2 separate regions of the Homo sapiens genome follow, and region 1 is linked to region 2. A link means that fine-mapping ties the variant in region 2 to the expression of a gene that starts in the linked region. Tissue or cell type: tibial artery. Region 2 holds a variant in brackets; the other region holds the start of a gene. All regions are shown on one strand. Distances are between the middles of the regions.

Region 1 (8,088 bases), 480 kb before region 2:
GAAAAATAAGAGAGTCAACTCAGTTCCTAGTAACAAAAGGCAGAAAGAAAGAAGTGGTTACAAGTATGGGCCCAGGCCAGGCGCGGTGGCTCATGCCTGTAATCCCAGCACTTTGGGAGGTCGAGGCTGGCATATCACTTGAGGTCAGGAGTTTGAGACCAGCCTGGACAACATGGTGAAACCCCGTCTCTATGAAAAATACAAAAATTAGCCAGGCTTGGTGCTGTGCGCCTGTAATCCCAGCTACTCAGGAGGCTGAGGCAGGAGAATCACCTGAACCTGGGAGATGGAGCTTGCAGTGAGCTGAGATTGCGCCACCATACTCCAACCTGGGTGACAGAGTGAGACTCTGTCTCGAAAAAAAAAAGAAAAGAAAGAAAGAAAAAGAACAGGCCAGGGGCGGTGGCTCATGCCTGCACTCCCAGCACTTTGGGAGGCCGAGGCGGGCAGATCAGTTCAAGACCAGCCTGGCGACACCCCATCTCTACTAAAAATACAAAAAACATGAGCTGGGTGTGGTGCTACACGTCTAATCCCAGCTACTGAGGAGACTGAGGTAGGAGAATCGCTTGAACCCAGGAGACGGAGCTTGCAGTGAGCTGAGATCGCGCCACTGCACTCCAGCCTGAGTGACAGTGAGACTCTGTCTCAGAAAAAAAAAAAAATAATAATAATAAATAAAATAAGAAGTATGGGCCCAGAGGTTAGAAAGCCTAGGTTCAGGTCAGACATAGCTCACTGCAGCCCCACCCTCCTGTGCTCAAGCGATCCTCCCATTTCAGCCTCCCGAGTAGCTGGAACTACAGGTGTGAGCCACTATGCCTGGCTAATTTTATTTTTTGGTAGAGACAGGGTCTTGCTATGTGCCCAGGCTGGTCTTGAACTCCTGGACTCAAGCAATCCTCTCGCCTCGACCTCCCAAAGCACTGGGATTACAGCAATGAGCCACCATGCCCAGCCTAAAGTATTTTAGAGTCTGGTTATATTAGAAGGTTGCGATTGGAAAAGTCTTACAAGTGATGGCAGATTGAACAGATTAAAAACTAGGCCCAGTAGGTCAGGAGCGGTGGCTCACGCCTGTAATCCCAGCACTTTGGGAGGCCAAGGTGGGTGGATCCCCTCAGGTCAGGAGTTCGAGACCAGCCTGACGTGGTGAACCCTATCTCTGCCGAAAATATAAAAATTAGCTGGGCGTGACAGCGTGCCCCTGTAATCCCAGCTACTTGGGAGGCTGAGGCAGGAGAATCACTTGAACGTGGGAGGCAGAGGTTGCAGTGAGCCAAGATCGCGCCATTGCACTCCAGCCTGAGCGACAGAGCAAGACTCCATCTCAAAACAACAACAACAACAACAAACAAAAAACTAGGCCCAGCAAGGGGAGAGACTTGCTGGGGTCCTGCAGCAGTGCAGTGGGTGAGACTGGCCAGCTTGGGCTGGGCTGGCTTTGAACTCAGGTCCATGTAACGCATTGATGATTGTCCTGACCAGCACCTTTTGTGAAACTAGTGCAGGGGGCCTTTATCATTCTGCATCTGGCAAGCCCTGCCACTCCTTCTTACAAGCATGGTGTTTATGTAATTTTCTTTTTTGTGGAATGGGGTCTTCATGTTGCCCAGGCTGGAGTGCGATGGCACAGTGGAGTGCAAATGCACAATCACTGCAACCTCCAACTCCTGGGCTCAAGTGATCCTCCTACCTCAGCCTCTCAATTAACTAGCACTACTGGTGCACACCACCATACCTGTCTAATTTTTTGTATTTTTTTGTAGAGATGGAGTCTCCCTATGTTGCCAGGCTGGTCTAGAACTCCTGGCCTCAAGCAATCCTCCAGCCTTGGCCTCCCAAAGTGTTGGGATTGCAGGCGTAAGCCTCCATGCCCTGCCTTACGTGCATTAATTACAATACACAGAATTACAAAACAAAAAGCAATGATATTGAAATGGCATCAAAATGCTTTAAAAACAAATTTCTGCTATACTAGTATAGATGCTTATTTTCAATGCATGAAATAACAAGACCCTATCATAATTTCTTTTCTTTTCTTTTTTTTTTTTTGAGACAGTCTCTCACTCTGTCCTCAGGCGTGACCTCGGCTCACTGCAATTTCCGCCTCCCGGATTCAAGCGATTCTCCTGCCTCAGCCTCCCCTGGAGCTGGGACTACAGACGCATGCCACCAAGCCCAGCTAATTTTTGTATTTTTAGTAGAGACAGGGTTTCACCATGTTGGCCAGGATGGTCTGGATCTTTTGACCTTGTGATCCGCCCGCCTCGGCCTCCCGAAGTGCTGGGATTACAGCCGTGAGCCACCGCGCCCGGCCGACTCTATCATAATTTCAAAGCAGTAATAAATGTAAGTGACAGCTTAAGATACCACCTTGTAGTTGCTGCACAAACTGGGTTTTTTTGCGTCTCACTCTGTCACCAGGCTGGAGTGGGGTGGTACAATCTCGGCTCAATGCAACCTCTGCCTCCCGGGTTTAAGCCATGCTCATGCCTCAGCCTCCCAAGTAGCTGGGATTACAGGAACGCGCCACTACTCCAGGCCAATTTTTATATTTTCAGTAGGGACGGGGTTTTGCCATCCTGTCCAGGCTGGTCTCGAACTCCTGACCTCACGTGATCCTCTCGCCTCAGACTCCCAAAGTGCTGAGGTTACAGGTGTGAGCCACCATGCCTGGCCCTGCACAAACTGTTATCTGGAACTATCATTTACACTCACCCTCACAGTTTCAGGCACTGCTAAGGCTGCTCCAGCAATCAGGAAAGGAAATGCTATACTTCACATAGAGAAAAATAGGGGTGCATTTTGTTCCTACACAAGCTCATTACCCCACCCTGGTTAAAAAAAACCCTGAATTAGGCTGTATAGTGGCTCATGCCTGCAATTCCAGCACTTTGGGAGGCCCAGGCAGGAGGATCGCTTTGGGCTTGGGGCCAGGAGTTCGAGACCAGCCTGGGCAACATAGCAAGACCCGCCACCCGCCCCCCCAACCCCGCCGTCTCTACAAAAATTAAAAATAAAATTTTAAAAATTAGCCAAGTGTGGTGGTGCAGCGTCTGTAGTTCCAGCTACTCGGGAGGCTGAGGTGGGAGGATCGCTTGAGTCTGAGAAGTTGACTGCAGTGAGCTATGATCGTACCCCTGTACTCCAGCCTGGGCCACAGAGCGAGAAAAAACCCTGAATTAGAGACACGCTGCGGCCGTCCTTCCTCGGAGAGACCCGCCCCTCCTCAGAGGCCCACCCGGACCCTCAGGCCAACGCCGACCCCTCTCCACACGGACTTCTGCAGCCTCAGTTTCCCTCCTCAGACGCCCCCGGCTCCAATCCCGGCTCGGGCACTTCCTTCCCCTCTGGCGTGTCTTGGCCCGGGTCCCGGGGCTCCTGCGAGGATCACACAGGAACTCACTTGAAGTGTCCGGCGCAGTGCACTCCGACGGGGAGCCCTGCCCGGTCCCCGCGGCGAACCAGTCTCTTCCTCGGGTCCCCCTCTCCCCAAGCGCGCAGGCGCAATCCGCGTCGCCGACTCACGCGGCTGGTTTCAGGTTTCTGGCGAGGCCGGTGTTCGGCTGGCGGCTAGCTGGGACTAGCGGAACGGCGGAGTCTCGATTGGCAGTGCCTGGACAGGCGCAAGGGCCGGCGCGGGCTCCGGGCGCTCCCGGCATCCCTCGGGCGGCGGCGGCGGCGGCGGCGAGGCGAAGCGAAGGAGGAGTGTGTGCGGCGGGGCCGGCGGCGGGTAAAGGCGAGAAGGCTGCAGGAGACCGAGGGGGAGCCGGGCCGGTGGGGCCGCCGCCGCCGCCATGCAGGAAATCATCGCCAGCGTGGACCACATCAAGTTTGACTTGGAGATCGCGGTGGAGCAGCAGCTGGGGGCGCAGCCGCTGCCCTTCCCCGGCATGGACAGTGAGCGCGGGGCCCGGGCGGGAGGGCAAGAGCGACTCGAACCCGGGACCCGCTCCTCTGTGATCCCGGGACTCCCTCGCCTCGGTCCTGAGACCTCCCCCGGCTTCCTCTGGATCCTGGGACCCCTCCCCTTTGGTCGCAGGACTCCTCCCTCTAGGTCTTGAGAGTCCCTCCCACCTCCTCCGGGTCCTGGGATCCTCCCCTTTAGTTACCGAACTCCCTCATCTGTGGTCCCGAGACTCTTCCCACTCCATCCTGAGACCTCCTCTTCTGGATCCCGGGACGCTCCCCTTGGTTTCAGGACTCCTGACTCCCAGGCCCCCATTTCCACCGTCTGGGGACTCCTTTTACCCTCACTCGGACTCAGGAGTTCACTGCCTCGGATCTTTGGCCCTCTGCGGCTGTTCAAAGGTAATCTGTAGGAGGGTAGACCTTGTCTGTTCGCTTAATTCTTGAATAAGGGTGGGTTATCCTGGATTGGAACTCTCCCTCAACACTCTCCCAACTGCAGGAGAGTACTAGGATATCACACCCGCTACGTTGAGCGTCTCTTCTTGATTTCATCAAAACTAGGCGGTTGGAGGAGATGTGCTGAGGGAAGGACCACCTTTCTGTAGGAGACCCCAGCTAGACTCTCAAACTCCCTTCTAGGACTCACTCTCCTGGGAGCTCATCCCTAGTTTTTGGCCCGTCCCTACTTTTTTCTGGACCCCAACTCTGAGTTATTCATCACACCCAGCAGCTGGTGTGGACCCTTGGCCTGAACTCCCTTCACTGCTCCCCTTCATATGGTGGCTCCTGGCTTCCCACCTCCTACTCGGTGGGATATCTTGTACTTTAAAAGAAACCAGTAGTTTTCTTTGTGTCTTCTTTCCTATCTGGACATACTTGAAATCTAATGCTATAACCTTAAAGTTTGGGGGCTTGTGGAAGTCACTGAGTTCAATCCACAGATGGGGAAACTGAGACCCAAGCGGGGGAAGGGACTTGCTGACAATCACTCAGTGCATAGCAGAGGCGGGCAAGCTCTCCAGTGTTGTGTGCTGTCGCCCACAACTACCAGCGGGGTCTCCCACCGCTCCCAGCAGCCTCACTCCCCTCAGGCGGTCACACCTTCTCATGCACATGTGACCTCTGAGTCTGTCCCTTTATGTGTTTTTGTTGTTGTTGTTTGTTTGCTTTTGAGACAGGGGCCCCTCTGTCGCCCAGGCTGGGTGCAGTGACGCAATCATGGCTCAATGCAGCCTCGACTTCCCAGGCTCCAGCAATCCTCCCACCTCAGTCTCCCAAGTAGCTGGGACCACAGGCATGCACCAACACGCCTGGCAAATTTTTTTGTGTGTATTTCTTGGTAGAGACACTATTTCATCATGTTTCCCAGGGTTGGTCTTGAACTCCTGGGCTCAAGTGATCCTTTTACCTCGGCCTTCGGAAGTACTGGGATTATAGGCATGAGCCACTGCACCTGGCATATATATATATATATATATTTTTTTTTTTTTTTTTTTCCTGCCTGTCCCACAACTTTACATGGTGATAGTTCTGTACAAGATAGTTTCATTGGAAATTAATTAAGTCTTCAAGAAGACAAGATAGTGCTTATAAGGAGACATCATCAGACCACCCTATTTGACACAGGCACAAACACCATCACCACTGTACACTCCCTAAAAAGCAGCTGCTCAAATTCACACACACACACCCCCTCTTACCTACCCCTCGACTCTTGTGATCATCCCTGCACATGTGGCCTTTTCCTGTCTTTTTTTTTTTTTTTTTTTTGAGACAGAGTTTTGCTTTTGTCACCCAGGCTGGAGTGCAATGGTGCGATCTCGGCTCACTGCAACCTCCACCTCCCAGGTTCAAGCAGTTCTGCTGCCTTGGCCTCCTGAGTAGCTGGGATTATAGGCGCCCACCACCACGCCCAACTAATTTTTGTATTTTTAGTAGAGATGAGGTTTCACCATGTTGGCCAGGCTGGTCTTGAACTCCTGACCTTAAATGATCCACCTGCCTCGGCCTCCCAAAGTGCTGGGATTACGGGCATAAGCCACTGTGCCCAGCCGGCCTTTTCCTGTCTTGATGGCACTAGCTTGAGACCATGGAACCACCCACGCAGGGCAGCTCTTTTCCTCCCACCCTTCTGCCATCTGACACATCCACAAGCCTGTGAGGGGAGGTACAGTGGCGAGGGGCCCACATACCTGTTCCTGAGGCCCGGGACACACCTAGCCATGGGTGTTGCTCCAGCCAGGGCTTCAGAGTCGGTAGGCACCCTCCACACTCGCTGCTTGTCCATATCCTGTTCAGTTAAAGCCTAGTGAGGCCACAGCCCTTCCTCACCCATCCCTCCTCTTCATCCCCATCTGAGTTTTGGGAAGAACTGTCACTTTGCCCATAAGGCATACTCATCCTATCCACATGAGACTCAGTTCCCAGAACTGTGTATTTCTGAGCAGAAGCAACTCTAACCTCTAAAGAGAGAGACCAGAAGTACTTTCAGAATTTTTTTTTTCTTTTTTTTTGAGACAGAGTCTTGCTCTGTTACCCAGGCTGGAGCACAGTGACGCGATCTTGGCTCACTGCAACCTCTGCCTCTGGGTTCAAGTGATTCTCCTGCCTCAGCCTCCCAGGTAGCTGGGATTACAGGCACGTGCCACCATGTCTGACTAATTTTTGCATTTTTAGTAGAGATGGGGTTTCACCATATTGGCCAGGCTGGTCTTGAACTCCTGATGTCAAGTGATCCACCCGCCTCAGCCTCCCAAAGTGCTAGGATTACAGACGTGAGTCACCGCACCTGGCCACTTTCAGACTTTTTGAGATGCAAATGGAGTGACCTCCCTGTGACAGCCATAAGTTCTATAACCTCAGCTGTGTCCTAGCAAAATCTGCTTGCTTCCAAGAAGCCAAGGAATCTTTTGTGATTTAGCAAGGGGAGGCATGTTAAGTGGGCTTCAGAGATGCTGTCATTGGTTTTTCAGCAATTCTAAAATGGTTACTTGTAGAGGAAACTGTTTCTGATGCCAAGGTCAGTTTAGTCTGGCAGCTGGGGCTGGTGAATTCCTGGACTCATCAGAACAGCTGGTCCCTGGAGCCCACTGAATTCCAGCACACTCCGACTGTGGGAATGAAAGGCTGTGCTTTTTTTTTCTTTTCTTTTCTTTTTTATTAACAAGCAACATAATCGGCCGGGCGTTGTGGCTCACACCTGTAATCCCAGCACTTTGGGAGGCCGAGGCGGGCGGATCACGAGGTCAGGAGATCGAGACCATCCTGGCTAACACGGTGAAACCCCGTCTCTACTAAAAATACAAAAAATTAGCTGGGCAAGGTGGCGGGTGCCTGTAGTCCCAGCTACTCGGGAGGCTGAGGCAGGAGAATGGTGTGAACCCCGGTGGGGCAGAGCCTGCAGTGAGCCGAGATCACACCACTGCACTCCAGCCTGGGCAACAGCGAGACTCCGTCTCAAAAAAAAAAAAAAAAAAAACAAAAAACAAGCAATATAATCAAAAACAAAAACACAACAACCTTAAAGCTGAAACAGCAATAAGTCAAACTGCCGCGGCAGTTCACAGTTTTACCTGGGGTACCTGCTCCCTCATTGCAAGGCAAGACTGCATTTAGTATATATGTGACCAAGAAGAATGAGAGAAGTGGAAAACACTGGAGAACAGAAAGTATCAAGAACCTTTCATCAGGCAATGCCAAAGCGCTCTGCTCTTTTCCTCTTCTTTGCCTCTGTATCCTCTGTGGTTCCAGTTCCAGCTGAACTTGTGACAATCCCAAATCGCTCCTTCCTCTTTTTCAGTTTCTTATCATCTTCAGACTTTCTGGAAATTGAAGAGACATTCAAACCAAATCTTTGAGCTCTTTCCTTCGGCTTATCCAAGTTAACCATAGGTGTGTTCAGATGACAGACTTTTGTTGGAACTGAAGAAATCCCAAACCTAGCTGCCTGAGCAGCTTTCTTACTCTCCAAGCTCACAGGTACACTGAATTGTTCGGCCCTCTTCTGCATTCTCTCAGCCTGTGGTATTTCAGATGTAATTTTCACCACTTTCTTCTCTGCTGCCACATCAACAGTTTTTTTCAGGGGGTTCTTCCTATTTGACAAGGGGTTTTTTTCTTCTTCTGTTTCATCTCCTAGTACATCTTCATTTGCCTCCTCTTCAGCATGTTCTT
Region 2 (8,088 bases):
GTCTTCTCAGTCAGCCTGGCCAGGGCCCAGTTGGGTCGCAGCGCGGCGGGCGCCGATGGGTGCCGACATTCGGGGCAGGGGAACGGGCCGCCGCCCGGCGCCCAGTTGCGGTGCAGGCAGCCGCGGCAGAAGTTGTGGCCGCACTCGATGGACACCGGGTCCTGGAAATAGTCCAGGCAGATGGGGCAGGTCAACTCCTCCTGGATGTCCTCAGCTTCCATGCTGCTTCCCTGCCGCGGAGACGGAGTCCGACGTGAGGCGCGGGAGAGGCCAGCAAGCTGCGAGCGGCCGCGGGGAGGCCAGACGACTTCCGAACCGCCGTCACCGCCTCACGTAAAAGGGTACAACGCAGTTTCTCTTCCGGGGTTCAGGACCCAAAAAGAACGCACGGACGTTGCCCGGCCTGAGCGCGCAAGACCGGAAGCTGCTGGGTATCCGCGCCGGAACCGCGAGGGGGTTGGTTCAGGCCTAGGCGCGGGGCAGGACGGGACCGGTGAGTGGCTCCTCCAAACAGCTATAGAGACCCAGAAATGCCTGTGGAAAGCTACAGAGGACTTGGGCAAGGCGTTAGAGCCGGACGTTGTGGTCCCTGGGGGAGCCAACCGGGGAGGTGCCTATGATCTTTCTTTCCAAGTTTGAGGGTTCAGGTCTGTGTTCGCCTGCTGGTTAGACCGATTTAAGTTTTAGAGTCCCAGGAGTTCTGGGCGAGCTGCAGCCTAGGGGCCTGGAAGGCCAGGAAGACTTGAAGGATCTGTGTTGGTAGGCCTGGAGTTTGGCTAACGTGGGGATGATTTGGATTCTGAGATGCAGATACATTGCCTTTTTGGTATCCAATTTGAAAAGTAGCAACCATTTTGCTATCCCAAAGAACATCCATGGAGGCTTTCAACAAATAATATGCTCACCTGTTTCAGGGAATTATCTATATCCCTTAAGTGGATTTTCGATCTTGTGTTTCTGAGGTGCTTTGCTTTTTATTCTTCCCACTTTCTTCCTTTTCTTGTGAATATTTGTTTAAAACAAAAAAAACTCTGGACTGACAAATTTAATAGAAGCTATTTGCACAAAGAACAGTTCATGAATTGGGCAGCACTCAGAACCAAAAGAGGTTCAGAGAGCTCTGTCCAGCAGTATGACCTGCTAGCTTTTATAGGAAGCAAAGTAGAGAAATCACCTCATTAGCTAACATCTAGGTGTCTGCCTTATTTGACAATGATATGATGAGGCATTTGCCTTATTGGGGCATGGTCTGATCAGTTGGCTGTCTGTTATTTGCTGAAGCTCGGCCGTGATTGGCTGAAACCCAGCTGTTATAAAAAATAAAGTAAGTTAGGCTTCAGTTCGTTTACATACTAAGTCAGGTTGTATTTTGTTATATGGGAACTCAAGTACCAAGACAGCCTCAGGCTAATGGGCTTTTGCTTATTTAACAGATTTTTCATTCTTTTTATGTCCCAATATCAAATACTGCCTTTCCTATAATAATTTTTCTCAGTAAGTAGTATGATTAAATGATTAGAAAAAGGGGTTCTTGAGGTATCTGTTTGGGGGTTATTGATGAAAGTTCCACTGAATATTTCTAAAACATTTAAATTGGACAACTAATGAATGGATTTTCTTTGCAAATTGGAATACTCTATGGAGAAGGGATCTGGTTCTTTAATAGGGACCAAGCAGGAAGGAATGCTCTTAACAGTTACTGATGTTTACCATGAGTGTTTATGGCATCTGTGTGTCTATATGTTTACCTAAGTATTGAATGAGAAGTTTCAGCATTCCTGCAAAGTATTTATTCCCCTTACAGTAGTCATTTAAATCTTTTCAGGTAAATCCCTTAAAATCCTTATGTCTTTATTCCTGCCATACCAGAGATGACCTTCCTTCTTTACTAAGTGAGGCTCCCTAATTAACAATTTTTCTCCATCACAAAATGTCTATAAGTCTGTATACCAGCCAAGGTTCATTCAGAGAAGTGGAATCACTATGTTTCTTTATGTTCGCAGGGCAAGCAGTTAAGAAGGGAAGATGAACATAAAGTAGGGAAGAGCAAAAATGAGTTGGAACCTAAGACACGAGCTGGTCATTCTTTCACTGTCTCCAACTTTAAAGATATGAGTATCCTTGCTAGAGGAGCTGACACTTTTTGCCACAGGACTAGACACACACACAGCTCAGGAATCAAAAAAGGTGAAGGAAGACTCAGGGAAAAGCTTCTGCCCCATCCCAACAAGGTGAACCAGCTGATTGGTGACAAAGTAGATGAGCCGCAGTAGCACCTAGTGTCCCTGCACCACCGTTTCAAGTATAAAACTGGAGGGATGCTTCAGTTCTCCCCTTCAAGACTTACACAACCATGTCTCTGTTGGGCTATTCTAACCAGAAACAAAAGGAAAGGAAATTCTGGGAAACATAGTTTAGCTTAGCAAAGTTGATATATTACAAAATTACCACTGTCCACTCTGCATCGAGTTGACATCCATACAGACCTCTTTAAAACACACTTTCAAAATAAAGTCCACACCCTACACATAAGCTATCTCTAGAGAAATTTGAAGTCTGTTGTGCACTGAGGATAACCACAACAACAAACTGTAAACCTAGCCCAATTTCTGACTAGACTGATACCACCGAACCACTGCTATGCACTCAAGAGCACTAAAGGCCTAGCAGAAGGAAAGACACACTCATCTCCAAGCATAAAAACAATCTTTACTTCATACTGTGAAGAGAGAATTGAAAAAATAATTTAAGCAAAAAAAATACAACATGACTAACTTTTAACAGAAAGAAAAAAAGACGCATACAGAAAGGCAAGAAAAAACACAGTCCAAAGAGATAAAACAATCATTAGAACCAGATTCATAAGACATAGACATTAGAAATATGAGAGAATTTTAAATAACTGTGATTAATGTGATGAAGGCCCTAAGGGGAAAGGTGAACAAAATGCAAGCTCAGATGGGTGATTTTAGCAAATAGATGGAAACTATCAGGAAAAATAAAATGGAAACTATAAAAATAAAAAATATAATAATAGAGATGAAGAATGCCCTCCATGGGCCCATTAGGAGACTGAACACAGTTGAGGAAAAAATCAGACTTGAAGGTAGGTAAATAGAAATTGCTGAAACACACACACACACACACACAAAAAGAGTGACAGAAACAGAACACAGCATCCAAGACTGGTGGGAAAATATCAACATCAAATCAAGAAATAGGCGCAGTGGCTCACCCCTGTAATCCCAGCACTTGGGGAGGCCGAGGCAGGCAGATCACGAGGTCAGGAGATCGAGACCATCCTAGCTAACGCAGTGAAACCCCGTCTCTACTAAAAATTCAAAAAAATTAGCCGGGCATGGTAGCAGGCACCTGTCGTCCCAGCTACTCGGGAGGCTGAGGTAAGAGAATTGCGTGAACCCGGGAGGCGGAGCTTGCAGTGAGCTGAGATCACACCACTGCACTCCAGCCTGGGCGACAGAGCAAGACTCTATCTCAAAAAAAAAAAAAAAATCAAGAAATAATGGCTGAGAATTTCCAAAATTTGTAAGACACCAAACCAATCCAAGGAGCTCAGAGAACACAGAGCAGGATAAATTCTTTAAAAAGAAACTAAGCTTATTGTATTCAAACTAAGCTTATTGTATTGATACCTGGTAGTTATAACTTACCAAATACACTGCCCAACATCTCCAGATGATCTATTATTTCTGAAAGTTTCCTTTATTACATTTCTTACTTCAGGGAGATATAGCCTTCGCTTCATGTTATGGTTGGTGCAGTCAGTATTCTCAGAAAGAAAGTACTGGTTCCATTTTACCTCCATCTTTTGTTTCCTGTCAGAAAACCTACCATACCACCAAGTACTCCTTCTCTACACTGCCTCTGATATTTAAGTAATTTGAGAATTCTGTTGAGACTATCTCCCTTTTTTGGTATGATGAATCTGGTCCTAAATTGCATGCCAAAGACTTTGAGAACTAAACTGTAGACCCAGATCTCATGTCCCAGACTGGCCTTTTGTTACCCACACAATGAATGGGTTAAATTGCTTGGCAGGGGACAGTCCAATGACCACAACCAAGGAGGATTTCCCAGGGGGATTTTATTACTTGCGATAAGTAAGGAGGACACTGGGAATAATTCCCCAAAGCAATGCCTCCCTGAGCAATGGTGCAAACATGGCTTTTATTAGTCTGGTTAGCTGAGTCATTGTATGTAGAGGTGGAGTCAAGGCAGCGCAGTCCCAGTTGTCGGTTATGCTGCTACATATGTCACATGTATAGAAAATGGTGAATAAGCTCCTCCTTGGACAGGATTTTAAGTATGGTGATGAGGAAAGTTGGCCAAAGTTCATCTCCAACTCAGGCATCTCTGGGTCCAACTGGTCTTTGTTTTTCCTGGGCTAAGCTTCTTCCTGGAACTTTTTAAAACAAAAATTCAAGATGTAACAGTTACAAGTGTGTAACTTTTTCACAGTGC[G/A]TACCCAAAACCCAAGGACCCTGGGTTACACTTTAGGTGCCACCCATGTGGGACCTATCAGAAGAGTACTACAAAGGCTTTGAAAACTGAACTGACATTGGAACCACAACCCTCAGAAGGCTGGTCAAAACTTATGACTTGAACCCAAATGGGTTAATTACCCTTTAAAACATAAATATCAACATCCTCCACCAAATTTAACCAAGACCCAGAGCATCCTAATGACATTCAAAATGTCCAGGATACAATCGATATTAATTGGCAGGTGAAGAACCAGGAAAATCTCAACTCACGTTGGGAAAAAATGTAACAGATGCAGAATGTAAGTTGCCACACATGTTGGAATTATCAAGACTATAAAGCTGCTATTCAAATGGAAAGTTTAAAAGTCTCAGAGAAGTAATAGAAAATACAAAGAATAGCCCCATGGAAATTTTAGAACGGGAAAATACAAAAACCGTCATCACATCATATCCGGGGCACATGCTGTCAACATTGCTCATCACTGTTGATGTTAACCTTGATCACCCGGCTGAGGTAGTATTTGATGGGTTTCTCCCTGTAAAGTTATTCTTTCCCCTCCCCCTATTTTACTGTTTAGTGGGAAGTCACTATGTGCAGCCCATGCCTAAAAAGGGAGTAGTTGGTGGGCACGGTGGCTCACGCCTGTAATCCCAGCACTTTGGGAGGCTGAGTGGGTGGATCACCTGAGGTCAGGAGTTCGAGACCAGCTTGGCCGACATGGTGAAACCCCGTCTCTGCTAAAAATACAAAAATTAGCCAGGCATGGTGGTGCACGCCTGTAATCCCAGCTATTCAGGAGGCTGAGGCAGGAGAACTGCTTGAACCTGGGAGGCAGAGATTGCAGTGATCCTGCCATTGCACTCCAGCCTGGGCGATGAGCAAAATTCCATCTCAAAAGAAAAAAAAGTGAGTAGTTATATTTCCCCTCCTTGCGGTGGAGTATCTACATTCTTCTGCATGAGAAATTTGTCAGTTATCTCCTATTTATTCAATTATTTATATTATGAATTCATGGATTCCTATTTTATACTTTGGGTATAATCCAATACTATGTTGTTTATTTTACTGCTCAGATTATTCCTGTGTTGGCCATTGGGAACTTTTTCAGTTGACATCTGTGTCCCTTTGACAAACTCCTGTCATTTTGTGGGGAAGAGGGAGTAGCACTTTCTTACTTTCTACCGCTACAAAATCCTCCAGTCTTATCTTGTATTTCTCTTCCCTAACCCTAAAGTCAATCATTCTCATTTCTCTAATGATAAATGATGTTAAACATCTTTTCATATGCTTTCTTATTATCTGTATATCTTCTCTGATGATTACCAAGGATGGGAAGGGTAGTAGGGGGAAAGTGGAGATGGTTAATGGGTACAAAAAATAGAATGAATAAGAATTAGTAGTTGATAGCACAACAGGGTGATTACAGTCAAAAATAATTGTACATTATAAAATAACTAGTATAATTGGATTATTTATAACAAAGGCTGAAGGCTTGAGGTGATAAATACCCCATTTACCCTGATGTGACTATTACACATTGCATACCTGTATCAAAATACCTTGTATACCCCATAAATATATAACCTACTATGTACCCATTTAAATAAAAAAAGTTTTTAAAAAAGAAATAGTGCTGAGACAATTGAATATCCACATGCAAAAGATAAAGTTTGACATTTATCTTACACCATACACAAAAATTAACTCAAAACCAACCAGAGACCTAAATGTAAGAGCTGAAACTATACAACTCTTATGGAAACATAGGCATTAATCTTTATGGCTGTGAATTAGGCAATAGTTTCTTAGGTAATACACAAAAATCATAAGCAACAAAAGAAAAAATTGGATGTTAGACTTCATTAAAATTTAAAACTTTTGTGCATCACTATCAAGAAAGTGAAAGACAATCATAGAATGGGAGAAGATATTTGGAAATCATACATACAATAAGTATCTAATACCCACAATATATAAAGAGCTCTTACAATGCAACAACAAAAATACAAAAAACTCTATTTATAAATGGGAAAAGGATTTGAATAGACATTTCTCCAAAGAAGATATACAAATAACCACTAAGCACATGGAAAATGTTCAATGTAATTAGCCATTAGGCAAGTGCAAATCAAAACTACAATGAGATACCACTTCACACCCACTAGGATGGCTAGAATTTAATAGATAAATAAAAAGTATTCCCACATTGCTGGTAGGAATGTAAAAATAGTGCAGCTGCTGTGGAAAAGAGTTTGGCAGTTCCTCAAAAGTTGAAACGTGGAGTTTCCTTATGACCCAGACATTCTATTCCTGGTTATTTATGCAAGAGAACTGACAACATGTGTTTACACAACACTAAAACTGGGGCCAGGTGTGGTGGCTCAGGACTGTTGTTCCAGCACTTTGGGAAGCTGAGGCAGGCAGATAACCTGAGGTCAGGAGTTTGAGACCAGCCTGGCCAACATGGCAAAACCCTGTCTCTACAAAAAATACAAAAATTAGCTGGGTGTGGTGGTGCGCACCTGTAGTCCCAGGTACTCAGGACGCTGAAGCAGGAGAATCGCTTGAACCCAGGAAGTGGAGGTTGCAATAAGCCAAGATCACACCACTGCACTCCAGTCTGGGTGACAGAGTGAGACTCCATCCCAAAAAAAAAAAAAAAAGTGGTACACATATGTTCATAGCAACAGTGGTCATAAGAGCCAAAAAATGGAAACAACCCAAATGTCCTGAAACTGAAGAATGTATAAACAAAATGTGGTATCTCCTTAAACAAAATGTGGTATATCCTAACAGTGGAATAACACTCAACCATATAAAGGAATGTAATACTGAAACATGCCACAACATGAATGAACCTCAAGTTATGCTCAGTGAAAGAAGCCAGACATGAAAGACCACATATTGCATGATTCCATTTGTATGAAAGAGTAGGAAAACCAATAGAGACAAAACCATATGATGGTTGCATGTTTTGGGTGCTAATAAGAGTTTGAGAGTAACATGAGGGGGTAGGGTTTTTTTAAGTTGATGAAAATGTTATTAAATTGGTAGTGTTGATGGATATACAACTCTGAATATACTAAAGGCTATTTAATTGTATACTTTTGTCACTGGTAGAGGATAGTGACTGCAAGTTGTCCAGGTTCTTGGCGTTTTGAACAAGGAATTGGACAAAACTCCTAGCAAAGCAAAGAAAGGATGAAGCAACAAAAGAACGAAAGCAGGGATTTATTGAAAACCAAAGTACACGCCACAGTGTGGGAGCAATCCGAGCAGCGGTTCAAGGGCACGGATACACAATCTTCTTGGGTCCCAGTACCCACTAGAAGTTTCCCTTTGGCCAGTTCATGCTTTGCAGAAAGCAACCAATCAGAGGCTAGGAAGAAGTTACGAAGTTGCAAAGGAAGACTCATCTGCAAACAGCCTGATTTGTTGGGGACAGGCAATTTCCCATCTGCTGCACAGAAAAGGTGGGGGTGTTGCAAAGGGAGTAGCCTCTGGTCCTTGTGTTACTTAGGCAAGGAAAGTTAGAGTTTTCCTTTCAATTTAGTCCTAGGAAGTTGGCGTGAAACAGCCTTA

Alleles and levels. Positions count from the first base shown, and alleles are read on the strand shown. Sizes are in standard deviations (SD) of each study's normalised expression.
As copies of G replace A in region 2, the expression in tibial artery of the gene that starts at base 3,661 in region 1 goes down (moderate effect, 0.45 SD a copy in GTEx).

What was found. PIP is the estimated chance that this variant, and not a neighbour inherited with it, causes the effect.
Region 1: CPSF4 starts here. The variant in region 2 is fine-mapped to the expression of CPSF4 in tibial artery (GTEx, PIP above 0.99).

What each region holds. Positions count from the first base shown.
Region 1 is chr7:99,435,283-99,443,370 of GRCh38, forward strand. It overlaps CPSF4 (cleavage and polyadenylation specific factor 4), which reads left to right and starts at 3,661. Exons shown (of 8, transcript NM_006693.4): 1 at 3,661-3,903. The coding sequence starts at 3,801. All of the region lies in intron 2 of ATP5MF-PTCD1 (ATP5MF-PTCD1 readthrough), which reads right to left. It overlaps PTCD1 (pentatricopeptide repeat domain 1), which reads right to left and starts at 3,516. Exons shown (of 8, transcript NM_015545.4): 1 at 3,410-3,516. It also overlaps the pseudogene LOC100131859. RefSeq lists silencers at 10-157, 3,656-3,955 and enhancers at 1,284-1,809, 3,106-3,395.
Region 2 is chr7:99,919,181-99,927,268 of GRCh38, forward strand. It overlaps TRIM4 (tripartite motif containing 4), which reads right to left and starts at 350. Exons shown (of 6, transcript NM_033091.3): 1 at 1-350. The coding sequence starts at 221. It overlaps GJC3 (gap junction protein gamma 3), which reads right to left. Exons shown (of 2, transcript NM_181538.3): 2 at 4,086-4,423. The coding sequence ends at 4,365. LOC101927610 (a long non-coding RNA gene) reads left to right here and starts at 423. Exons shown (of 2, transcript XR_001745296.3): 1 at 423-647; 2 at 2,004-6,134. RefSeq lists a silencer at 1-81 and enhancers at 212-261, 292-371, 612-721. The variant G/A (reference allele first, on the strand shown) is at 4,483.